7 linked regions of the Homo sapiens genome follow. The protein of the gene in region 1 purifies or fractionates together with the protein of each later gene. This does not show direct contact. Each region holds a gene or a part of one and is shown on either strand. Other genes may lie near its edges. The genes, in order: COQ8A, PMPCB, ESYT1, EIF3L, TRABD, RBM34 and RAB7A.

Region 1 (3,500 bases):
GCACAGTCTCCCTGTCCCTGTCGGCAGCAGCCCTGATGATCTGGGGAGAGGCACAGGAGGGGACCGTGGGCAGCATGAAAAGCTCAGCTCCCGACATCCCAGGGAGCCAAGTGCCACACCCGAGCCCACCCCACCCTCATCCTCTCCCTGCACAGGGCCCCCGGCCAGTGCTGTGACACCACGCCTGGCAGCTGTCAGCCTAACTGCCTGCTGTCACCAGACCTGAGGGGCAGGCAGCGCAGATGGGGACACAAGGGCAGGAACCCAGTCATTCTCCCTACCCCGAGTCCCCCAGCATCCTGTCCCAGCCTCAGAAAAACATGGACCAAGGCCAGGGCCCCTCTCCAGTTACCTGAATGTAGAGGTCGGTGAAGGATCTGTCATATTCCCGCGTTGCCCCAAAATCCAAAAGAGCCACCTGGGGACAGAGACACCAGGAGAAGTTTGGCCCTGGTGCTCCATGGTGCGGGTGTGTGGGGCCGGGAAGGGGGTGCAACAGAGGGCAGTGAGGATCCCCACTCCCAGAGCCCTGAGCTCTCTGCTGACTTTCCCAGGACAAGGGGCAGTCCAGGGCCTCACGTGCCCCATTCGGAGAAGCTCTCAGGCCTGGCTGCGGGTGCCCCCACCCTGGGGCTCACCTTGTGCTGCTGGGGGTCATAGAAGAAGTTGGACCAGTTGGGGTCTGTTTGCATGAAGTGGAACTCGAACAGCTCCCTCAGGCACAGAACCAGGATGTTGTAGCAGATCTGTGGACAGCGCGAAGGGTCTGTGTCAGGCAGCACCACACTGCCTGGTGCCCTGGGAGACTGGGGCCAGAGAAGCCCCTGCCTCCTGTTTTACCCACCCTACCCTAGGGACTGTTTGATTCCCAGTGTTACTTGGGCCAGGGAAGGCAGCAGCTCCCCTGTGTCCCCCTAAGTCCCACTGGTGCTACTTCACTGCCCCTCACCCCCAGGGAGCACCTCAGGGCTCCAAGTCCCCAGCTCACACTATTAGGTCACCAAACAGCCACACAGCAGGGCCACCCTGGCCCCACCTGTCTGCTGGCACAGACAAACCTCGTTCCGAATCTCCTGGCTGAGCCCTTCGGCCTGGTCCAGGGGGAAGCCAGACACCAGCTCTGTGGTCAGCACATGTGGGCTGCAGAGCTCATCCACAATCTCAGGCACATAGAAGAAGGGGTGGCCCTTCAGCAGGTCCCTGGGTAGGGGAGGGAGGTCACGCCCTAGCCACAGGCCCTCCACACCGTCCCCCCCCCCACACACACCCCCCAACCAGGCAGAGGGCCCTCCTTCACCCCAGGCAGGATATGGCCTCGGCCCAGGCTGCAACCCCAGCCCTCTGCCCCTCAGAGCTGGAGGGGCCTTCACCAGCTGCTGAACATGGTCCCTTCTGCCTCCCTGGTGCAAACACGCAAGGGGCCCGGCCGGGGGCCACACCTGAACTTGCGGGCACAGGCGGCCTCTCGCTGGTAGTCACACTCCAGGGCCAGCTCCCGCCTCAGCACGTCGATCAGGTGCTCGGGGAACAGGCCTGGGCCAGGGAGGAGGGCATCAGCGAGGAAGGGGGCTCTGCAGGGAGGACCCCCTCTGGTCCCCAGAACCCAACACAGATGCCTGCCACCCACTCCTGCCCTTGACCCAACCACCTAGCCTCAGACCTTCTGGAAGCATGTTGCTCATGTTCAACACGGCCATGAGGTTGTTGACATCACTGTTGATGCTCTGGGCCACGCCAGGGTACTGTGGGGGTATGGGTGAGGCAGGGGAGTTAGCCCAGGGAGACGGGTGGGCCCTGCCTGGGGCACTCCCCCAACCCCCAACTGGCTTCCCAGCTGTGTCCTGGCCCCAGCCCACACCCTGGAGAACCAGAGCTAAGACCCAGCCATGCTGCCGTGACCTGGACCCCATCACAGCCTCGTTGTCCACCTACTCCTGCCTCACCTCACCCCTGGGAACAGCTCACGGCCACCCTCCCACCAGCTCTGGCCCCAAAAAGCAATCACTTGTCCCCTGTCCTTGCCCACCCCAAATCAAGCTTGCTGGGGGCCCCTCTGTGCCCCCAAAGTCACTCATTTAGCAAATACTTCCCAAGCTTCTGGTGCCGTCCAGGCACTGGGGCCAGAAGACACCACATATGGCCCTGCCAGGAGAGAGGGTGCCCTGCGGGACGTGGGGTGTAGAGGCCTCCATGAGCCAGGCCCCAGCTCTGCCCCTTGCAGCCCCCATAGGGACAGGCACTGCGCATCAGGCCGCCTACCTGGATCTTCATGGCCACCTCGCGGCCGCCCTTCATTCGGGCCAAGTGCACCTGCCCAATGGATGCGGCGGCGAAGGGCCGCTCCTCGAAGTATTCCAACTTGTCCCGCCAGTTGGGGCCCAGGTCGTTGTTGAGAGTTTTCTGAAGGGCAGGGCCAGGGAGGGGCTCTGAGCATGCCCTGCCTGGGCCACCGGGAGAAGCCCCAAGTCTGTCCCCTCCACCCAGTGGGGGCCGAGGCCACAGAGAGTGGGCAGAGCCCCTGGCTCCTCACCATCATCTGCTTCAGTGGCATGAAGTCCGCGCTCTGCCGCACCCGCTCGAAGATCTTAGCCAGGTGGGGGTTGATAAAGGCATCATCTGGAAGGCAGGAGAATGACACAGGGCGAACCTGGGGATTAAAGTGTGCGCCCAGGACCTGGGCGGGCACACTCCTGGGATGCCCTGGCCACCACACCCTCCCCACCAGGAGCACGGGTGAGGCCAGAAAGACAGGAGCCCTCGCACACACGCCCTCGGCCACTCAGCTTCCCGGGAGCCCCAGCCTCCGCCCAGTGACCTGAGAAGGTGGGCTTTTTACACTCAACATGCAGAGTTTTTCATAATTACAAAAGAAATTTGGAAAATAAAACATAGTAAAATGTTGAAATGACCTGTGTTCTGACCACCTGTAGAGAGCAATTTTTCCTCTCTGCTCTTTATTCCATGTGTTTCTTTGGACCCAGAGCCACCCGTCTGGAGACCAGGCCTATTATCTTCTAAGATCTCTCCCCAGCCTGCTCACATCTTGCCCACTGAGCTTTGGTGGGGCCACTGCTCCCGGCCCTGGAAGTTGACCCCCCCAGCAGCCCACGCAGTCCCGGGGCAGCAGCCCCCGCGCCCACTCACCCTGGATGCTCAGCATCTGGCCCAGCTTGAGTGCCGCACCACGCACCTTGCAGAGCGTGCGCACGATCCGCTCTGCATTGGCCTCGGACAGGAAAGGACTGGAACCCAGCACGGCCTTCTTCCCTGTGGGCGGGCAAGAGGGGTCACCACGGCACTCGGGGGGGTCTGGGAGTGGGATGGCAAGCCCCACCTGATACAGACGGAGGCTCAGACAATGTCCTTCCTCCCAGGCGTCCATAAAACCAGCAACATAACTAACTACTGTTCCATGTCCACCTCCCCAAGCCTGTGTGAGCCACATGCCCAGGCCCTACGCCAGCGCCTCCCAATACACACAGGCATGCACACGTACATAT
Region 2 (3,500 bases), on another chromosome or scaffold:
AGGGTGGATCTCCTGAGGTCAGGAGTTCAGGACTAGCCTGGTCAACATGGTGAAACCCCATCTCTACTAAAAAATACAAAAAATTAGCCAGGCATCGTGGGCATGGTGGTGCGCCTGTAATCCCAGCTATTCGGGAGGCTGAGGTGGGAGAATGGCTTGAACCTGGGAGGCGGAGGCTGCAGTGAGCCGAGATGGCACAACTACACTCCAGCCTGGGCAACAGAGCAAGACCTCATCTCAAAAAAAAAAAAAAAAAAAAATTCTATAGTATAAATCAGCTTCACATCTTGAGACTTAGGAAAAACCAACTGCAACCTTTGAAAACATGGCAACTACTGTTTATCTAGGTCTCTTAATTAAAAGGTAAAATTACCATAAATCACCATAAAGTATAAATAAAAAACTAGTTTAAAACGAATTAAAGGCAAAATTTAAATTACTTAAAGCTATTTTTCTCACCATTCTTTTTGAACAACATGTAGCATGTCTGCAACAGTGGATGATTCACAAACCATATACAGTCCCCATAATCCTGTATCTGTGTAGGAAGTGTTGAAAGACTGAAAGCTATGGCAAAGATTGCCATGACAAGTGAGCTGGGCCAGCTTGCTAGATAAATTCTGCAAGGAAAAAAAAATTCCAAGAGAATTTTAATTATACATGTCCAAAATACAGAAAGAAAAATGGAGTGTGTGGAAAATAGTGAATATCCTTAGAGGCTGTTTCCTAGTTTTATTCAACATCTCAGTAGTAGAGTTAAAATTCAGTATGACTAAGAATTGTGTTTATTATCTCACTTACCCAGTGCACCCCCTGGAGAAATTCATGTTATAAAAGCAATGAGTCCTTATAATTAATGTAGTAGCTATACCTACTTCTAAAACTAGATGGCTATTATCAACCCAATTTCTAGGACTCTTGGCTACATACGCTTAAAGATTCAAAGTTATATTGCATATGAAGCTTAAGATTATTTAGATGAAATGTATTTTGGAGAAATCTATGAGTAAAGACAAATCTATACAATGTGTTTTGAAATAATTCCAACTTACAAAAAAGTTGCAAAAACAGTACAGAGAATTTCATTTATCTAGATTCCCTGTTATTTTACCATGTTTGCTTTATTCTCTTTATACAAGTTTTTTCAACTGAGTTTTAGATGTGATGCTTCTTGCCCCAAATACTTTAGTATGTACTTGTGAAAAACAAGGAAATTAATGTTCTTACATCACCTTGGTATAGTTCCTCAGTATCTGTGGAGAATTGGTTCCCAGATCCCTGTGGATACCAAAATCCACAGATGCTAGAGCCCTCATGTAATATGGTATATGTAATATTTGCATATAAGCACATTCTCCTGTATACTTTAAATCATCTCTAGATAAATACCCAATCCATGTAAATGCTATGTAAATAGTTGTTATACTATATTGTTTAGGAAGTGACCAAAAAAAAAGTCCATACATGTTTAGTACAGATGCAACCATCCATTTGTTCCCCAAAATTTTCCACCTATGGTTGGTTGAATCCACGGATATGGAACCCACAGATATAGAGGGCCTACTGACTATTAAAATTAGGATATTAACATTGACATAGTACTTCTAGCTAATTCTGTCCTTATTCAAATTTTGCCACTAATAAACTTTGTGGCAAAGAAAAAAAGAAACTTTTTCTGGCCCACATGCAATCCAGGATCAGTTTATATTTTTAAGTCAGAATTCACAGTACAAGACTCTATTCTGCCACTTTAAAAAAGGATTCTTACAAAGAACTTATATTTAAGAAAACATGATAATCTTCCATCTGTTATGGAAAATTTCTTTTAAAATCACTTACCATTCCTCCCCCAAAAGAGCGATCCCAGTTGCCAATCAGCGTGTTTGCAACCATGAGACAGATTGTATCTGGATGTGCCCAACCAACAGCTTCAACAGCTATTGCAAGGTGCGCCAAAGGCATCTTGTCATCCCTCACACGAATCTAGTTAAGATAAAGCAGGAGGACCTCTAGTTAAGATTAACATTATATAACATGCTTATTAACAAGGAAAAAATCACCAGTCCCATTAACTGCAAAGTTAAAATGCACACCAGGACTCTATTTTGATTTTTTAACTATCAGGCCTCATTACATTGTTGAGTTTAATCTAGAAGAATTAAGACTAAATTAGGGAAAAATTACTTTTCCCAAAGCATTTTACTACAGACAGGCACCACATGGTTTACCTGGTCAAAAGGGTTGCATCATTTCACTGGTAGAAATCAATCCTTTGTGTTTGTCAATCTGAATTTGTCTTTTTCTTTCTTTTTTTTTGAGACAGAGTCTCACTCTGTCGCCCAGCCTGGAGTGCAGTGGCACCATCTCGGCTCACCGCAACCTCGGCCTCCCATGTTCAAGCAATTTTGCCTCAGCCTCCCGAGTAGCTGGGACTACAGGCATGCACCACCACGCCCAGCTAATTTTTGTATTTTTAGTAGAGACGGAGTTTCACCATGTTGGTGAGGCTGGTCTCAAACTCCTAACCTCAAGTGACACACTCGCCTCAGCCTCTCCAAGTGCTGGGATTACAGGCGTAAGCCACCGCACCCGGCCTCAATCTGAACTTTTCTATTGAAATGTCATATTGACGTTACAGGTTTATTTTTGTACTGCCAATGCTACAGTTCTAGGCAGCTGCCAATATCAGGGCATTTTCCAGATACTACTTTGAGCATCATCCTCAACATGGCAAACTAAGCAGCTAGTGGGGCTTAAAGCTAGTTGATAACTAGTAGATCCCCTGCAAGTTCTGGCTCTAACAGTTACTACCCCCTCCCAAAACATACTGTGGGCAAAACTGAGCCAAGAGTAAACCTGAAGTGAAAGTCAAAATACGGGGTTTAAAAGATTACTTCCAGATATTACAATATGTAAATTGGCATAGTGCCAAAGAAAAAGCACAAAAAGACCAAATTATAAACTGCTCTTAAAAACTTTGCTTCCTTTCAGACTAGAATGGAGAAATTTAAAAACAAAACAAAAAAAACCTTGCTTCCTTAGGAAGAAAAATAGGTGGTTAAAGAATACGGAAGAGGAAGGAATGTAAGCAAATGAGTACATCCTCTTCCCTTTTCCTATTATTCCATTCTTTTCCTACTGGAAATATGCACATTTTGTTTACTTATGTGTAAATACAACACAAGGAATCCAAAAGGCTAAATACTAGCTGGAAGGCTTGCCCTACCTCACTTCCTGTGAATTTGCAGGGAGGCAGAGCTGGTATTTCTCCTTTGTGTGTGCATAAAGAGTCACCGAAATGAAACTTTGCTAAGTCAAGCAATTCATCATGGGAAACACCTAAATTGAAAGAAAATATTTTCACATGTATCTAGCAGCAATATAGTTTACAATAAACCCTAGGTGGTATAATGTGATGTACATTACACATGAACTATCTACACTCACTAAAAGCCATTATTTAAGAGTAAGCTCACATAGCACACCTATTTCCTTGGTGT
Region 3 (3,454 bases), on another chromosome or scaffold:
CAGAGCGAGACTCCGTCTCAAAAATAATAATAATAATTTCTGAAAGTTTATGAGGTAAAGATGGTCCACTCTACTCTGGTTAAGAAAGGAAGGACAGGCCAGACACAGTGGCTCACACCTGTAATCCTAGCAATTTGGGAGGCTGAGGTGGGTGGATCACCTGAGGTTGGGAGTTTGAGACCAGCCTGACCAACATGGAGAAACCCCAGCTCTACTAAAAATACAAAATTGGCTGGGCGTGGTGGCAGGTGCCTGTAATCCCAGCTACTCAGGAGGTTGAGGCAGGAGAATCGCTTGAACCTGGGAGGCGGAGGTTGCGGTGAGACCAGATCACGCCATGCACTCCAGCCTGGGCAACAAGAGCGAAACTCTGTCTCAAAAAAAAAAAAAAGGAAGGAAGGACAGAGGGAGGGACTAGCAACTGTTACCATGGCTTCCCTGCCTTTCTCAAAGGGAAATCTCACCAAACCACCTATGAGTCCAAGCGTTTGGACCTTTAAAACACCAGGATTAACTCATTTGTTGATGCATTCGCCTCTTGATCATGGTCCTGTTGCCCCACAGGTTCGGGGTGAGGGCACTGGCGTGCTGGGCTCATTATCCCTGCCCCTCTCAGAGCTCCTCGTGGCTGACCAGCTCTGCTTGGACCGCTGGTTTACACTCAGCAGTGGTCAGGGGCAGGTGCTACTGAGAGCACAGCTAGGGGTGAGTGACAGGAGATGGTGGGCAGGATGAGAGGGAGGAGGGGAGGGCCTTCACAGGTGAGGGACACCCAGGAGGGTGGGAACAGAGGGCCGTGTCCTTAGAGTGAGGGAACTGAGAGAACTCTGCCCAGCTCACAGCTTTCTTGCCCCTAGATCCTGGTGTCCCAGCACTCGGGAGTGGAAGCTCATAGCCACAGCTACAGCCACAGCTCCTCATCGCTGAGTGAAGAACCAGAGCTCTCGGGGGGACCCCCTCACATCACCTCCTCAGCCCCAGAGCTCCGGCAGCGCCTAACACATGTTGACAGGTAAAGGGCTGGGACAGGAAGGTGGGACGCAGTCAGAAATAAAAAGTATTACAGGTTCACTAGGCTCTAGCTTTCCCCAGACCTACTGATATTTCTCCACAGTCCCCTTGAGGCTCCAGCCGGGCCTCTGGGCCAGGTGAAACTGACTCTGTGGTACTACAGTGAAGAACGAAAGCTGGTCAGCATTGTTCATGGTTGCCGGTGAGACCCCATCCCTCCTGTCCTCCAGATCGCCTCCATCCCTTCCCTCAGGTTACCATATCACCTACATCCTCCTGTTGTAGGTCCCTTCGACAGAATGGACGTGATCCTCCTGATCCCTATGTGTCACTGTTGCTACTGCCAGACAAGAACCGAGGCACCAAGAGGAGGACCTCACAGAAGAAGAGGACCCTGAGTCCTGAATTTAATGAACGGTCAGTCAGTGGGCATTCAGGTGGAGAGATGGCAGGCTTGGAAAGGACTCCTGGCCCCTAACATCCAGTCCTACCCCAGGTTTGAGTGGGAACTCCCCCTGGATGAGGCCCAGAGACGAAAGCTGGATGTCTCTGTCAAGTCTAATTCCTCCTTCATGTCAAGAGAGCGTGAGCTGCTGGGGAAGGTAAGAGGGCAGGATGGCAGGGCAGAGGTGAGGGCTGGAAGCTGCTGGCACCAAGGTTATAGTCCCTGTGAGGAAGGAAGTACCCCACGTGATCCTTTAGAGGTGACTCACCTCTGCAATGGTTTGGGACGAGTATGTGATGAAGGAACATGGTCTTTGGAGATTTCAAAACAGCATCATCAGAATGAGATCCTGTCTCAAAAAATAAAAGAAATAACATCTTTCCCCTATCATCTTCCAACACAGGTGCAGCTGGACCTAGCTGAGACAGACCTTTCCCAGGGTGTAGCCCGGTGGTGAGTGTCTGCGTGGGTGGGGGATGGTCTGGATATTTCAGTGGGAGAAATTCCAATCACAGGAAAGGAAAAAAAGATACAATCTGAGCAGAGAACCATTGATTCTATCAAGTAGAGAAGCCCTTGGATCGTGTCTCATTTATAAATATGATGACACAAGAGTCATCTTTCTACATGAGCCCTCTTTTCACAGGTATGACCTGATGGACAACAAGGACAAGGGCAGCTCCTAGGAGCTGGCGAGTCCCAGCCTGACTGCTCTGTCTTCCTGCCTTCGTCTCGCTCCATCACCGCCTCAATGTGATGAGCCTAAAGCTAGGGTCCAAGGGCAGAGCCTGTGCCCTTCAGCCCTTTCACCTAACAGGCCCATATTCGGGCCTTTGCCTGACCAAAGAGAAGAACCGTATGTTCCCTTTACTGCACGGCCTTTATCCTTCTGGGCCCCTGGGGCGGGGACCTGAGCTGGCTGTTTCCTGCTTTGCCTGCACATTGTTCTCCCTTCCTCCCAACTCCTCAGGGCCTTCTGTATCTGTGCCTGGCCAGTGGCAGCACTAGCAGTGGTATTAGCTTATGCCAAATACAGCTTTGGAAGGATCTTTTTTTCTTTAACTAGATGGTCACCTTCTTCCCTACCACACATGGGTGGGAAGGTGGACAGGCTAACCTCTCCAGCTGTGAGCCTCTTAGACTACTGCATGTAGCAAATGTTCAGCAGCTCAGGCCCCCATGTCCAGTTCTGTCCCCACTGTCCTCAACCCTGTCCTGAAAATTCTACTGCTTTGATGGCTGGGGCCAGTCTCTTGTCACTTTGGAAACTGAGGACGCGTGGATTCTACTCAAGCCTCCAAGTAGTGGCATATCAGTCTTGGAGCTCCTAGCTGGTGATACGGAGAGGGCTTTGGAGGACTTGGGACAGCAGGGCCAATTTTTTTGCCCAAGTGCCTAGGCTGCTAACTCACTGACTAGAACTTAATCTGGTACTTTACAGTTTTGCACCAACTCTGCCAAGCCACTGGATCTTACATTAAACATCATACTCAAACCAGCTGTGGTTCTTTTCCTTAAGGATAGGGAATCAATCTACCCATCTGATGTTTATTCCTACTGTCAAAAGCCTTTATCCAATTCGTGAATCATGTCAGTTTAATTAATGGTCAAAGCCTACTAAGGTTGCAGCCACCAAGAATGTTGAGGATGGTCAAGAGACCTGTGTAAAGTAGCTGCTGTTGCATTTCAGGTGAGACTCATTTCCAGTCACAGTGATGAACTCTGTTACCCATCCAACTTGTCTGCTGACCACTATAGGCTTTCCAGGGAAGGGATTCCTAAACCTGGTAAACCTGGGAGCTCTGTGCCACTGCACAGGCTCCTGGTGTCTCTGTGCCACTGCACAGGCTCCTGGTGTCTCTGTGCTGTCAGGGCATGCTCAGCTACATTCAAAAGGGCTTCAGGCCCATCTAGCAGGAGCTGAGAAATACACCCATTTCGATCATCTGTACACCTTGAACTCTGCTCCTTGCAAGAACTTTCCTGGAATGCAAGCTA
Region 4 (3,500 bases), on another chromosome or scaffold:
TTATTCCAGAGTGACTGTAATGACCCCCAAATTATAGAAGGAAATAGAAACAAGTCAGTACAAAGATCTAAATTTCACCATATATGAGAGATCTCTGTCCTCTCTTAAATCATCCAGCCTTCGACAAGTTATTTTGCCAAGGACCTACTACATACCAAGCACCAAGGAAACAAAATGGTGAGCAAAACAGACACAGACCCTCTTGAGCTTCCTGTCTAATGACTCAGCCACTGGATTCCACTCAGTGCACAAGATATAAAGAGCTCACACCTACCATTGCCAACCTGTGGAGCAATGGCTTCAGCCTCGGGCCAAGGTGTATTCTTGAAGAATCTTTCAGTCAGCTTGGTCCAGCTAAAAATCAAGAAAAAAATCTCTAAAATTCCAAAAGGACTGGAGAATGCCAATCCTAACATTTTACAGATGAGGACCCAGGCTTAGAAAGGGGAAGATGTCAAATAAACAGAGCTGAGGCCAAAGCCCTTCAAGCCCACAACTGTCCTCAACCCAACTCCACACTTCAATCTTTCTCAACACAAGAAAATATTGTTTTTGTATCAGTTAGGGACCCATCAAGCTTTTCAGGATAATCTCCTGCCTCTGTATCATTAACTATAGCCATATTTAACTGCTTGCTGTTTTCTGCTATAAGAACTACTTTTTTGGCCACCATTCTTTAACACAGCGTTTCCATCTCCTGGAGCACATCCAAACGTCTCTAAACACAGAAGCAAATCAGTCTGCTGCAGTCCAAGGCCACAACAGACCTACAGCATCCAATTTAAACACTGCTGCCTATCCAATCCAAACACTGCTACTTGACAAACCTGCAACAGGTTGTTTAATTTTCTTCTCCTGATGCCCTCAGCAGCTATTAATACTTTCCTCCAATCTCCTCAAGCCCCACCCCTCCTGCTTCTCTGGCTCTTTTAGTCCAACATATAAACATGCTCAAGTTCCCCTAAAAAACACTGAACAGGCCAGGCATGATGGCTCACGCCTGTAATCTCAACACTTTGGGAGGACAAGATAGGGGTATCGCTTGAACCCAGGAATTCAAGACAAGCCTGGACAATATAGGAAGGCCCTGTCTCTACGGGATGGGGGTTGGGGAGAAACACAGAAACAGAACAGAAAAGAAACACTGAAACAGGCCAGGCGCGCTGGCTCACACCCGTAATCTCAACACTTTGGGAGGCTGAGGCGGGTGGATCACTTGAGGTTAGGAGTTCCAGACCAGCCTGACCAACACGGTGAAACCCCGTCTCCACTAAAAATACAAAATTAGCCAGGCATGGTGGTGCACACCTATAATCCCAACTACTTGGGAAGCTGAGGCAGGAGAATCGCTTGGAGCCAGGAGGCGGAGGTTGCGATGAGCTGAGATTGCGCCATTGCACTCTAGCCTGGGCAACAAGAGCGAAATCCTGTCTCAAAAAACAAAAAACAAAAACAGAAAAAACACAGAAACAAAACACAAAGCCACTCAGTGACCCTTTATGTCCCCGATACTTACCAATTCCCCTTTCTCACCCCACTGCTCTCTGGCTGTTGCTTCCATCACTCTACTGACATTGACCTTGCTAAGGTTATCAAGGCCCTCCAAGTTACCAAATTCAACTGGCTTTTTTTCTCATCTGGACCTCACTAAAACATTTGGTGATACTCTCTTCCTCAGTTTCTTCTGCAGACTTTTTGGTTCCTGTGACATTTCTTTGCCAATTTACTATCTACTTTTCACTTTTCTTTCTGCCTCCTTTACTAGATCCTTTCTTTGCCTGCCCACCCATCCCTAAAGAAACATACTTCTTAAGGCACCAGCATTTCTTCTCACATTCTCCTAGAGAAAGACTTACAAGATGCTTGGCTTCAACTGTCATCTGTATCTGCGGGCACTGCCCAATGCAATAGCCACTAGCTACATGTGGCTACTATATAAGCAAAGAGTTAAATTTTAAATTTCAGTTAGTTGCCATTTAAGTTTAAAAACCAACACTTAACTCAGTATTGGAAAACTTTTAGGTCTATTTGGAATTACTCTACTATTTGAAGATTCAAATTTCAAATTTGAATTACTTTTCCAGTCATAAACTCTATAAAATCTAAACACAAAGCAAGTATTTCTGATACACACTGGATTTAGGAAACTTTAAGTATAAAGAAAAAAAAGGGCAAATATCCCCTTAATTTTTAAATACTGATTACATATAGAAATAATATTTTAAATAAATCTCCACTTCGCTTGGCTGAAAAATTAAAATTAATGTCTAGCTACATTTCTATTGAACATCAGGTCCATTTTTTAATTTTGAGAGAGGGTCTCGCTCCATTGTGCAGCTCACTGCAGCCTCAACCTCCCAGGCTCAAGTGATCCTCCCACCTCAGCCTCCCAACTAGCTGGGACTATAGGCATGCTGCCACCATGCCCCAGCTAATTTTTGTAGGCGCTGATTTATATACTTCTAATCAGAAAAGACCCGGGGAATAAAGAAAACACAGTTCAGCACACTTGCCTTTCAGGTCACCCACCTGGCCCTCTTCCAACTGTCCTTTCCTTTCTTTCATTCCTGTTCTAAAGCTTTTTAATAAACTTTCACTCCTGCTCTCAAACTTGCCTCCCTCTCTTCTTCTGCCTTGTGCCCCTCAGTCGAATTCTTTCTTGTTAGGAGTCAAGAACTGAGGATGCTGTCGACCCGTACAGATACAGACTCATCATCAGTAGCATTTTAGCCCTCAGTGTAATTCTTTCTTGTGAGGAGGCAAGAACTGAGGCTGCTGTAGACCTGTACAGATACGGACTCATCATCGGTAGCATTTTACCCCTCAGTCGAATTCTTTCTTTTGAGGAGGCAAGAACTGAGGCTGCTGGAGACCTGTACAGATACGGATTCATCATTGGTAGCATGTTTTGGTGTTGTGTCACTTCAACACCCTTCAGCTGCTAACCTCTTTTGGTGCCGCATGACTTGGATCCATTTGCTAGTGGTGAAAGACCTCGATGCTGCACCTTCTTCGGCTGGAGGTGTTCAACCTCCGAACAAGGTTTTCTCCCTTTCTCTCTCCTCACTAACTAACCCCCAGATCAATTCTTCTTGGTCATAAGTGACTCTGTTCCCATTGGCTGATCTCTCAGCTCAACCTAATGGGTGGCTTGCAGGGGCGGGAAGGACCTTGGAGTCCACACCAAGTAGAACTTAGGCTCACGAGAGTGGCAGGGGTGAGGCCTAAAACCATGCAATGTCTGAGGTTTCCTCTGCTTTTCAACTACAATCAGCTCTTTCAAAACAACAAAAAAAGAAAACACATGTCAGAGATCCTATTCATTGATCAATAGGCCTTTGGCTATTTGTTTTCTCTCCCTCATCCTTCTGACTTGCTTAAATTCTATTTCCTTGGTGAAGTCACTCCTGACTATCCCAGCTTTGACTGACCTATCTTATCTCTAACGCTCATTACACAACGGCAGCCCCTCAAAACCTGCGGAGTTCAGCTTGCTCTGA
Region 5 (3,500 bases), on another chromosome or scaffold:
GGAGAAATTAAAAAATGAAAGGCAGGCGCCAAACGTTTAGGGACATTTCTATAAGATCTCATTATAATTGTTTCCTTTGAACAGGGGGAAGGCAAACTGACCAGGGCTGGGGTCAGGCGTGCTGGGCCCCCTTTGAAAACACAAAGCCTGGCCGGGCGCGGTGGCTCATGCCTGTATTCCCAGCACTTTGGGAGGCTGAGGTGGGTGGATTGCCTGAGCTCAGGAGTTTGAGATGAACCTGGGCAACATGGTGAAACCCCGTCTCTACTAAAAATACAAAAAATTAGCCAGGTGTGGTGGCAGGCACCTGTAATCCCAGCTACTCAGGAGGCTGAGGCGGGAGCATCACTAGAACCCAGGAGGCGAAGGTTGCAGTGAGCCAAGATCGCACCACTGCACTCCAGCCTGGGCAACAGAGCGAGACTCTGTCTCAAAAAAAAAAAACAAAAACCGAAAACACAAAGAGCAATGAGAAAGTCCTGCCTCTCCGGTCACTGCAAGGCTGGAGAAGTGGGGACAGGAGGAGCCCTGAGCCCCACCCACTTTGGGCCTGGGTGTGGTACCGGGGGGGCCAACCTTGCACTGAGACCTGACCCATCCCCAGCAACTGCTCAGCAACCCAGTCCTCGGGTGACCAGCCCCTGCCTCAGCTTGGAGAGCCACCCATTTCCTCCTCCCTTGCCTGAAACCGGGTAATGGAGCCTCTTTCATTTCTCCTGGCCCAGGGGAGGTCCCTAACCCGGCAATCCCCAGGGCAGGCCAGGCACAGCCACACTGACTGGGGGCATGGGCTGTGAGAGGAACCTGGGCAACAGGCAAACAGGTGGCTTTGACCCCGACCCTGACCCTGACCCTTGCCCGCGGCTGCGCACCTGCCTCACGGCCTGCTGCAGCTTCTCCAGGCTGAGCTCCTGGGCCTCCCGCAGCAGCGTGCTCTCGTCCATCTTCAGCATGGACACACGATATTGGCAGAGCTCCACGACCACCACGTCAGGCTGCACCTCCCGGATGGTCTGCAACAGCCACAGGTCACACCTCGAGAACACAGCCGCTCCCTGCCCCTCAGCACAGCTGACGCCAGCACCAGGGGCCCCATCCCAGGAGCAGCCAGCCTTGGCGTCACCCCAGGGCTAGCTAACCCCGCTGCTGCAGTGACAGCTCAATTCTCTAAGCGACGAGAGAGGAAGCTGTGAGGCTTGTTCACTTGTTAAGTGGGAAAACGCACAAGGCCGTCACGGCTCCCAGGCAGGAAGCCCACCTTGCCACTCCCAGGGACCACAGTGTTGAAGCAGGAGGCCTGCGGTGCGCACACACGGGCACACGGGCCCTGCCGGGAGGTCCCTGAGTGCAGGACACAGGAGCTTACACCAACCCGTGTCCGGGATGTGGCGGGTGGCGGCGCTCACCTTCACAACGTCCCTCTTGCTGTCGTCGCTGAAGTGGGCTGTCCCCACCACGTACACCCTGCTCCCGTCCTCAGCCACCAACTGGGTCACAGTGCGCGGCAGGTTGGGCCGCTGACGCCGCCGCTTCAGCTTCATCTCCAGGAGCAGGTTGAAGGCGTCCACGTCGGCTGCAACAGCAGCACAGGCCGTTGTGGTGCCGGGCCCACCCCAAGGACGCCGCCGGGCCCGCTGGCAGCCTGGGCTCTAGAACCCTCCTGGGTTCTGAGAACTGAACAGGTGCAGAGCACAAGACTCCTGACGAGCGTCACACTCCACAGGCTTTGCCTGCCCAGTGATGGGAACACCGGCTACCACCTCTGTGAGCTGCACGGCTTCGAGAAGCCAGGGCCTCAGGAGTCCTGTGCCCCATACACCCCATGAGGGCGACCTTGGGGGTTGCTGTGGATGAGGTTCGGTGTGGGGGACAGTGGGGGCAGGTGCCGCAGGGGGCTCAGCTAGGGGAGGGGCTCTGAGGCGAAATGGGCCCCCCCACCCCACTCAGGAGGGACAGGCTGAGGCCACAGCAAGGAGGGACTCCCGTGCCGCTCACACTGCTTGTGCTCACGAGCCCCCCATGCCCAGGGGCCTGCCTGTGCTGCTTGCAGCCCCTCCAAGAGGCTCCACTGCCAGGCAGGGCCCAGGAGCAGCTGCTGTTGGGTGGCACCAGGCCTAGCAGCACCTACCTCAGGTCTCGGCCAGGGCCCCTGCTCACCACAAGCTCCAAGCCCCTGGCAGTGGTTGGCTGCCTCCCCCTCCTCCCTGACTCAACAGCCCAACACCGGGGAACGTGCCAGGACCCTGAGGGACACGTACACAGGTTCTGGGGGTCTCCAGAAAGCACCCTGGGCACCGGCTCTGAAGCCTCTGACGGCACAACAGGTTCCACGTTGGCCTGCAGGTGGAAAGGAGAGTTCAAGTCAGGGTCCATGCACCCCAGAAAGCCAGGGCTCCGTGGCAACTCCACGGACCACGTACCCTGGAAAGGGACCCGTGGCCGCTGTGTGGACCACACACCCTGAAAAACGAGGGCCCGTGACCGCTCCACGGACCACGTACCCGGGAAAGGGACCCGTGGCCGCTCTGTGTACCACACACCCTGAAAAGCAGGGCCTCCGTAGAGCCTAGGCCCCACACTGTCAGTACCCCTCCTGCTTGGCCATCACTGGCACGGCTGCCATCAAGCTGGGCAGACAGGGCCACCAGGCCACCTCAGCCCAGCGCCCCTCTCCCTCGGAGGTGCCTCCTGCCTGACCCTGGAGAACCCTGTGAAGATCACCTTTGCAGAACAACAGCCAGGGACCGACCCCGAGAGCCCACAAAGCGGGGAAGCCCCCCGCCCCTGTCTCTGTGCAGCCAGCCCAGCCTCCACCTCACCTCGTGCGGTGGCTGCTGCTCCTCCCCGTCCATGGCTGGGCGGCGGCTTCCTGCACCTGTGGGGAGCCTGAGGAGAGGCATGAGAGGCGGGGTTTCCACCTGGAGCCCCAGACCTGGCTCAGGACTCACTGCGTAGTGCCCTGTCAGTCTAGAACCATCTGTTGGGTGGGCCTGGGGGCTCCTTCCCCCATATCCCCAAATGCCTCCTGCCCATCAAAGGCTGCTGAGGTCCAGGGTCGGTTCAGGTCAGGCCCGGGTGGGGAAAGGCCAGCAGGTCCCCAGACACCCCAGCATAAACCAAACGCAGACGGGCCCAGGGCGGGTTGCTGGTGCACAGGCCTCACTCAGAACAGGGCCAGAGCTGCCCAACCCTCACTGCGGCACGGCGGGCACACATAGGAAGGCAGCCCTGGGGTCCACACATGATCTCAGGACACAGCAACGCAGCTGCTGACACATGGCAAGGACCCCAGGGCCTTTGTACAAAAGCCACTTCCCCTTTCAGTAACTACAGCCTGGGCAACAACACCGGCACAGAGTCAGTACAGACGGAGGAATCCACAAAGCACACAAATCAACGTGTTTGGACCTAAGACCTTCTCTCCCACTTTAAGAGACAAACATGGTGTGGAAGGAACCACGGTAGAAACCCGGACAGGCTGGGGCAGCCACACGAGGGGG
Region 6 (3,500 bases), 8.2 Mb from region 1:
TATAATAATGTACTTTAGAAACATTTCTGGGAATCCTGTTCTATCAAGCTTTTGTATGGCAACAGTCCCTTTGGACATCTTGGTGACTTCATTTCAATATTGAGTCTTCATTTGGAGTTATTTGGCCGACCAGGTCTTCGCCGGTTTTTCCTCATAACCATCACAGTGCCAGGTGTATAGTTAAGAGTTGATAAATATATAGATTCCCACAGTGTTTGCTGAGGTAACCAAAGATGCAGATCCTCCTAGATACCAGGCATTGTTCAGTGCTGTGGTGACTAGAAACCTTAGTAAGATACAACCCTTCTTTTTGAGTCATACTTTTATTTCTGTATGAAGTTGAAACCCAGGAGCCTAAATTTGAACAGAAACAGAGGTTCTGACAGGTGTATGTACAAGTACTACTGAGGAGTTTAGTGGGATATGTTAGAAAATTGGAATTTTCACACCATACCGTCAGCTTCTCCTCCAGCCCCATCTCATTGTTTTTTTGTTTCTTTGTTTTGTTTTGTGTTTTTAACATACAAGCTCTTGCTCTGTCACCCAGGCTGGAGTGCAGTGGCAAGATCTTGGCTCACTGTAGCCTTAAACTTTTGGGCTCAAGTGATGCTTCCATCTCAGTGTCCCCAGTAGCTGGGACTACAGGTGTGCACACCACCCTGGCTAATTTATTTTATTTTATTGTAGACACAGAGTCTCATTATGTTTTTCAGGCTGGTCTTGAACCCCGGGCTTCAAGCAATCCTTCTGCCTCAGCCTTCTAAAGCAGTGGGATTATGAGCATGAGCCACTGCCTTTTTGTTGTTGTTTTTAATTTAAAATTTAATGATGGCTGGCTGTGGTGGCTCACACCTGTAATCCCAGCACTTTGGGAGGCCGAGGTAGGTGGATCACTTCAGGCCAGGAGTTTGAGACCAGCCTGGCCAACATGGCAAAACACTGTCCCTACTAAAAATAGAAAAATTAGCAGGGTGTGGTGGCACATGCCTGTAGTCCCAGCTACTTGGGAGGCTGAGGCAAGAGAATCGCTTGATCCCAGGAGATGAAGGTTGCAGTGAGCCCAGATCACGCCATTGCACTCCAGCCTTGGTGACAGAGCTAGACTCTGTCTCAAAATAAATAAATAAATAAAATTTAATTATACACCTTTTCTCTAGTCAGCCAATTCCCTACCCTAGGCAAGTGTTTTTAGTTTCTTATGTAAGCTTCTAGAGACATCTTAGCATTTAAAAACTGATACGCATAGATGTTCTTCTTCCCACATAAAACAGTTTAACTCACTGGTATTTAATATATGCACTACTCCACACCTTCCCTTTTTCTGCTTAGTACAACTTGGAGATCTGTTTATATTGGTGTGAAAGTGATTATTTTTATAGCATTTTTTAAAAATGCCCTTTTTCTTAGAGTATTCTCTAGGTGTGCCTTAATTTATTTTATCAAATCTCCCACTGATGGACATAAAGTTTTTTCCCAGTCTCATGACCATTACAAATAATGCTGAAGGCCGGGTGCAGTGGCTCACGCCTGTAATCTCAGCACCATTAGAGGCCAAGGTGGGCAGATCGCTTGAGCCCAGGACCTCCCTGGGCAAAATGGCAAAACCCCATCTCTACAAAAAATTAGCTGGGCATGATGCTGTGCACTGTAGTCCCAGCTGCTTGGGAATCAGACGAAGGAGCACCTGAGCTCAGGAAGTGGAGCTATGATTGCACCCCTGGCACTCCAGCCCGGGTGATAGAGTGAGACCCTGTCTTCCAAAAAAAAAAAAAAAAAAAAAAAAACCTGCTGTAATATTTTAGCTGGTCATGGAGGCACGTGTCTGTAGTCCCAGCTACTTGGGAAGCTGACGTGAGATGATCACTTGAGCCCAGGAGCTTGAGGCTTCAGTGAACTGTGATCACACCACTGCACTGTAGCCTGAGCGACAAGCAAGACCCGCTCTCTCAAAACAAAACAAATAATGTTGGAGTAAATGAGTGACCTTGTACTTAGGTAATTTTGTACATAAGCTAAACTTATCTGTAGGATAAACTTCTAGCAGTGGCATTGCTCAGTCAGAAGGGTATTTGCATTCACAATTTTGACTGCTGTCTCGTAGAGATTGCAACCTATTTATGTTCCCACATCTTTACCAACAGTAAAGTCTTTTACTTTACAAAAACAGTATGTTGGCCAGGGAAGATGGCTCATGCCTGCAATCCCAGCACTTTGGGATGCTGAGGTGGGTGGATTGCATGAGCCTAGGAGTTCGAGACCAGCCTGGGCAGCGTGGCGAGACCTCATCTCTACAAAGAAACAAAAAAATTAGCTGGGCAAGGTGGTGCACGCCTGTAGTCCAGCTACTCTGGGGGCTGAGGTGGGAGGATCACTTGAGCCCGGAGAATGGAGGCTGCAGTGAACCATGATTGCACCACTACGCTCCAGCCTGGATGACAGTGAGACCCTATCTCAAAAAAAAAAAAAAAAGTATGTTTTTGAGCTTTGTGGTTGTTGGAAACCTGAGTGTGGTATTTCTAATTTGAATTTCTCTTATGAGTGAGCATCTTGTCATGTAATTTAAGAGTCATTTGTGCTTTCTTTTATTTGAATTATTAGTCTTATTGATCTGTGGGATGTTCATGAAATCAGTCTTTTGTGACATGAATTATGAATATTTTTCTCTATTTGTCATTTGCTATTTGTTTATTTATTTAATTTATTTTTTGAGACGGAGTTTTGCTCTTGTTGCCCAGGCTGGAGTGCAATGGCGTGATCTCAGCTCACCGTAATCTCCGCCTCCCTGGTTCAAGTGATTCTCCTGCCTCAGCCTACTGAGTAGCTGGGATTACAGGCATGTGCGCTACACCTGGCTAATTTTGTATTTTTAGTAGAGACGGGGTTTCCCCATGTTGGTCAGGCTGGTCTCAAACTCATGACCTCAGGTGATCTGCCCCACCCTCGGCCTCCCAAAGTGCTGGGATTACAGGCATGAGCCACCGCGCTGGGCCTTATTTTATTTTTAAGAGATAGAGTGTTGCTTTGTTCTCCAGCAGAAGTGCAGTGACTCAGTCATAGTCCACTATAGCCTGGAATTCCTAGGCTCAAGTAATCATTCTGCCTCAGCCTCCCAAGTAGCTGGAACTACAGGTGCACACCACCACACCCTAGCTTGTTGGCTTTTTGACTTGGCTTATGGGAAATTTTGCCATGTAAAACTTTTTTCCTTTTTCTTATAGCCAAAATGTTTAAAACCTTTTTTTTTTTTTTTTAGTTTATTAAGGCTACTTCCAGTAAACTGCACATATTTGACATGTACAATTTTATAATTTTAACATATGTAGGCAATCTTGAAACCACTGCCATAGTCCAGATACCAAACACTTTATCATCTCGAGTTTCTTCTAACCCTCTGCAATATGTCCCTCCACCTCTGTCCTCAGGCAGCCATTCATTTGCTTTCTGTCTCTATGTGTTAGTTTGCTTTTTCCAGAATTTTATATAAGTAGAGTCATCATACA
Region 7 (3,500 bases), on another chromosome or scaffold:
TTTTGGCTTATGGCAGAAAAGAGAGACTTGCCTTTCCTCTCAAGAGAGCTCAGCCAGTTGTTTGAAATCATTCAGCTATGTTACACAAGCCGTTTCCCTCCCTGAATAGACCGTGGCCTGTGCTAAATGCTCGTATGTGCTGGGATCTGTTTCTGGTCTCTCCAGTCTGTTCTGGTGATGTCCATGCCATGTTCCCTTATCTGGACTGTGTTGATTTGACTGCCTGATGAGGCAAGTTTCCTCTTGCCACAGTCTTTTTTTTTTTTTTTTTTTTTTTTTTTTTTGAGACGGAGTCTTGCTCTGTTCCCCAGGCTGGAATGCAATGGCGTGATCTCGGCTCACTGCAACCTCCGCCTCCCAGGTTCAAGCGGTTCTCCTGCCTCAGCCTCCTGAGTAGCTGGGATTACAGGCATCCGCCACCATGCCCAGCTAATTTTGGTAATTTTTTAGTAAAGATAGGGTTTCACCATGTTGGCCAGGCTGGTCTGGAACTCACATTGTGAACCGCCCGCCTCAGCCTCCCAAAGTGCTGGGGTTACAGGCATGAGCCACCGCACCCGGCCTGCCACATTTCTTTTTTAATAATTTTGTTTCCACCATTTTCCTCTCTTACCTTCCACACCCCAAATAAAACTCTGTTGAGATTTTGATTGGAATTTTTTTCTTCAAGCCCACTGTTTTTTCCTCATTGATTGCAGTTTTGTTGTGGCTGTTGCATTAGTCTGCTCAGGCTGCGTTAACAAAACCCCACAGCCTGGGAGGGTCCAACAACAGACATTTTGTTTTCTCACAGTTCTGGAGGCTGGAAGTCCATGAGCAAGGTGCTGGCACATGTTTCTGGTGAGGGTGCTTTTCTGGGCTATCTTCTCACTGTGTCCCTCCCATGCCCTTTCTGCTGTGTGCACAGAGAGAGGACACATGAGCAAGGTGTCTCTGGTGTCACCTCTTCTTATAAGGACACGAATTCTCAGATCAGGTCCCCATCCTGCAACCTCATTTAACCTTCATTCCTTCCTTACTCCAAATACAGCCACCTGAAGGGTTAGTGCTTCAACACAGGAATTTTGGAGGAACACAAACATTCTGCCCAGCCGAGTGCGGTGGCTCATGCCTGTAATCCCAGCACTTCGGGAGGCTGAGGCGGGTGGATCACCTTAGGTCAGGAGTTCAAGACCAGCCTGGCCAACATTGTGAAACCCCATCTCTACTAAAAATACAAAAAATTAGCTGGCGTGGTGGTGGGCACCTGTAATCCCAGCTACTTAGGATGCTGAGGCAGGAGAATTGCTTGAACCTGGGAGGTGGAGGTTGCAGTGAGCCGAGATTGCACCATTGCACTCCAGCCTGGGCAACAAGAGCGAAACTCCATCTCAAAAAAAAAAACAAAACATTCCACCCATGATACTATTTTAGGTCTTGTTTCTGTTCCTTCAGTAAGATTGATTGATTCTTTTTTTTTTTAGAGACAGGGTCTTGCTCTGTCAGTCAGGCTGATACGCAGTGGTGCAATCATCACTCGCTATAACCTCCAACTTCTGGGCTCCAGCAGTCTTCCCACCATAGCCTCCTAAGTAGGTAGGACTACAGGCACACCCATGCTATAATTGATTTATAATATGATCCTTTGCCTTTCACAGTAAACATATTCCTAGGTACTGGTGGGAATATAAAATGTCACTATTTGTAATAGCCAAAAAGTAAGAACAACTCAAATGTCCATCAACTGGTAAGTGAATAAACAGGGCAGCTTATCCATGCATTCTAATATTATTCAGCTATAAGAAGGAATGAAGTAGTGACACATGCTGCCACATGGGTGCTAAGTGAAGGAAGCCAGTTGCAAAAAGACCATATGTTGTACGATTCCATTTCAGTGAAATGTCCAGCCCGGATGCAGTGGCTCATGCCTAAAATCACAGCACTTTGGGAGGCTGAGGCCGGAGGATCACTTGAAACCAGGAGTTTGAGACCATCTTGGGCAACATAGCAAGGCCTCATCTCTACTAAAAATTAAAAATTAGCTAGGTGTGGTGGCATGAGCTTATAGTTCCAGCTACTTGGGAGGCTGAGACTGGAGGATTGTGTGAGCCCAGGAGTTAGAGGCTGCAGTGAGCTGTGATCATGCCATTGCACTCCAGCCTGGGCGACAGAGCAAGACTCTGCCTCAAAAAAAAAAAAAGAAAGAAATCACAGTCCACTAGAAGAAATGGGGAAAATTAAAATAAATAAATAATGTTTAAAAATTAAGTGTCCAGAATAATAGGCAACTCTATTGAGACAGAAAGTAGATGAGTGGTTGCTGGGTCCAGGATGGTATAGAATGGGGGTGGGAAGGAACTACTAATGGGCATAGGGTTTTTTGGGGGGTGATGAGAGTATTTTAAACTTAATGTTGATGGCTGCCCAACTTTCTGAATATACTAAAAACCATTGAATTGTACACTTCATGGCATGTGAGTTAAAACCCAGCAAAGCTATTAGGAGTGCAATGGCACCATCTTGGCTCACTGCAACCTTGACCTCCCGGGTTCAAGCAATTCTCCTGCCTCAGCCTCCTGAGTAGCTGGGATTATAGGTGCTTGTCACCATGCCTGGCTAATTTCTGTATTTTTAGTAGAGACGGGGTTTCACCATGTTCGCCAGGCTGGTCTTGAACTCCTGACTTCAGGTGGTCGACCTGCTTCAGCCTCCCAAAGTGCTGGGATTACAGGCGTGAGCCACCATGCTCAGCCAAAGCTGTTATTTTTTTAAGTATGTATTCCTAGATGTTTTATACTTTTATAGTTATTGTGAATGGAATGATTTTTTTCCTAGATAACTTTTAATGAATAGAAACAGTTCCTGCTTTATCTCCAAATTCTAGAACAGTCACTGGCACACAAGTGCTCAGTGTTTAAGTGACATTGTTTTCCTGCACCCAAAAGTAGAATGCTGCTCCTCATTGGAAGCATGTTACTTTAGCAAAGTGCCACTAAAATGACCATAGTCCATGTGCTCTGATCACTTGTCACAGATGGTGATAAAATTCATTCACAGCTTCCTTTCTAGGCCTGCAGCATTTGGGAGACAAAACTCTGCTAAACCTTTGGAAGAAAAAAGAGACCAGAGGCCATTGGTCCCGAAAAGTGGATGGAAGATAGGGAGGTAGAAGGAATGTTACAGGCTGAGAGGGCAGCTCACACTCAGCTCCAGCCACTTCACCTCGTGCACACACTGGCTGAGGGTTGCCAGATGTTTGAGAAAAGCTAGAAATCCAGACCATTGTTAACCATTGGCAACTATAGGGAACATACAGAAAGCATCTGAACTGGATGTGGTAGAGCTCCCAGATCATGATCTGATTGAGAATGTCCATGAACTTCTGTCCTGATTGCTCAGTGCAGACTGCTGCTTCTTCTGGCAAGACTCCTCTCTTCACATTGACCTGGAGTTGTCACAAAATCTGTTTTTCTCTTGCTACTCCCCTGAGCATGGCACCTTCTGCCAGAGCGCTCCCTTAA

Evidence for each region.
Region 2: the proteins of COQ8A (region 1) and PMPCB purify together in Homo sapiens (affinity purification with mass spectrometry; 2 studies listed by BioGRID and IntAct, with this or other methods). This does not show direct contact.
Region 3: the proteins of COQ8A (region 1) and ESYT1 purify together in Homo sapiens (affinity purification with mass spectrometry; one large-scale study listed by BioGRID and IntAct). This does not show direct contact.
Region 4: the proteins of COQ8A (region 1) and EIF3L purify together in Homo sapiens (affinity purification with mass spectrometry; one large-scale study listed by BioGRID and IntAct). This does not show direct contact.
Region 5: the proteins of COQ8A (region 1) and TRABD purify together in Homo sapiens (affinity purification with mass spectrometry; one large-scale study listed by BioGRID and IntAct). This does not show direct contact.
Region 6: the proteins of COQ8A (region 1) and RBM34 purify together in Homo sapiens (affinity purification with mass spectrometry; one large-scale study listed by BioGRID and IntAct). This does not show direct contact.
Region 7: the proteins of COQ8A (region 1) and RAB7A purify together in Homo sapiens (affinity purification with mass spectrometry; one large-scale study listed by BioGRID and IntAct). This does not show direct contact.

Annotation. Positions count from the first base shown.
Region 1 is NC_000001.11:226,981,794-226,985,293, reverse strand, and holds part of COQ8A (atypical kinase COQ8A, mitochondrial), read right to left. Parts: intron 3,268-3,500; coding exon 3,145-3,267; intron 2,617-3,144; coding exon 2,531-2,616; intron 2,401-2,530; coding exon 2,260-2,400; intron 1,743-2,259; coding exon 1,661-1,742; intron 1,534-1,660; coding exon 1,440-1,533; intron 1,201-1,439; coding exon 1,059-1,200; intron 747-1,058; coding exon 639-746; intron 419-638; coding exon 353-418; intron 41-352; coding exon 1-40. UniProt on the Homo sapiens protein: Atypical kinase involved in the biosynthesis of coenzyme Q, also named ubiquinone, an essential lipid-soluble electron transporter for aerobic cellular respiration.
Region 2 is NC_000007.14:103,307,435-103,310,934, reverse strand, and holds part of PMPCB (mitochondrial-processing peptidase subunit beta isoform 1 precursor), read right to left. Parts: intron 3,340-3,500; coding exon 3,227-3,339; intron 1,984-3,226; coding exon 1,840-1,983; intron 621-1,839; coding exon 460-620; intron 1-459. UniProt on the Homo sapiens protein: Catalytic subunit of the essential mitochondrial processing protease (MPP), which cleaves the mitochondrial sequence off newly imported precursors proteins. Preferentially, cleaves after an arginine at position P2.
Region 3 is NC_000012.12:56,141,721-56,145,174, forward strand, and holds the end of ESYT1 (extended synaptotagmin-1), read left to right. Parts: intron 1-564; coding exon 565-705; intron 706-857; coding exon 858-1,012; intron 1,013-1,114; coding exon 1,115-1,213; intron 1,214-1,296; coding exon 1,297-1,428; exon of another isoform or gene 1,429-1,507; coding exon 1,508-1,613; exon of another isoform or gene 1,614-1,805; intron 1,806-1,859; coding exon 1,860-1,909; intron 1,910-2,102; coding exon 2,103-2,142; 3' UTR 2,143-2,954; downstream 2,955-3,454. UniProt on the Homo sapiens protein: Binds calcium (via the C2 domains) and translocates to sites of contact between the endoplasmic reticulum and the cell membrane in response to increased cytosolic calcium levels.
Region 4 is NC_000022.11:37,852,419-37,855,918, reverse strand, and holds part of EIF3L (eukaryotic translation initiation factor 3 subunit L), read right to left. Parts: intron 355-3,500; coding exon 275-354; intron 1-274. UniProt on the Homo sapiens protein: Component of the eukaryotic translation initiation factor 3 (eIF-3) complex, which is required for several steps in the initiation of protein synthesis.
Region 5 is NC_000022.11:50,192,413-50,195,912, reverse strand, and holds part of TRABD (traB domain-containing protein), read right to left. Parts: intron 2,887-3,500; 5' UTR 2,853-2,886; coding exon 2,820-2,852; intron 2,338-2,819; coding exon 2,259-2,337; intron 1,574-2,258; coding exon 1,407-1,573; intron 1,014-1,406; coding exon 873-1,013; intron 1-872.
Region 6 is NC_000001.11:235,144,251-235,147,750, reverse strand, and holds part of RBM34 (RNA-binding protein 34), read left to right. Parts: intron 1-3,500.
Region 7 is NC_000003.12:128,809,683-128,813,182, forward strand, and holds part of RAB7A (ras-related protein Rab-7a), read left to right. Parts: intron 1-3,500.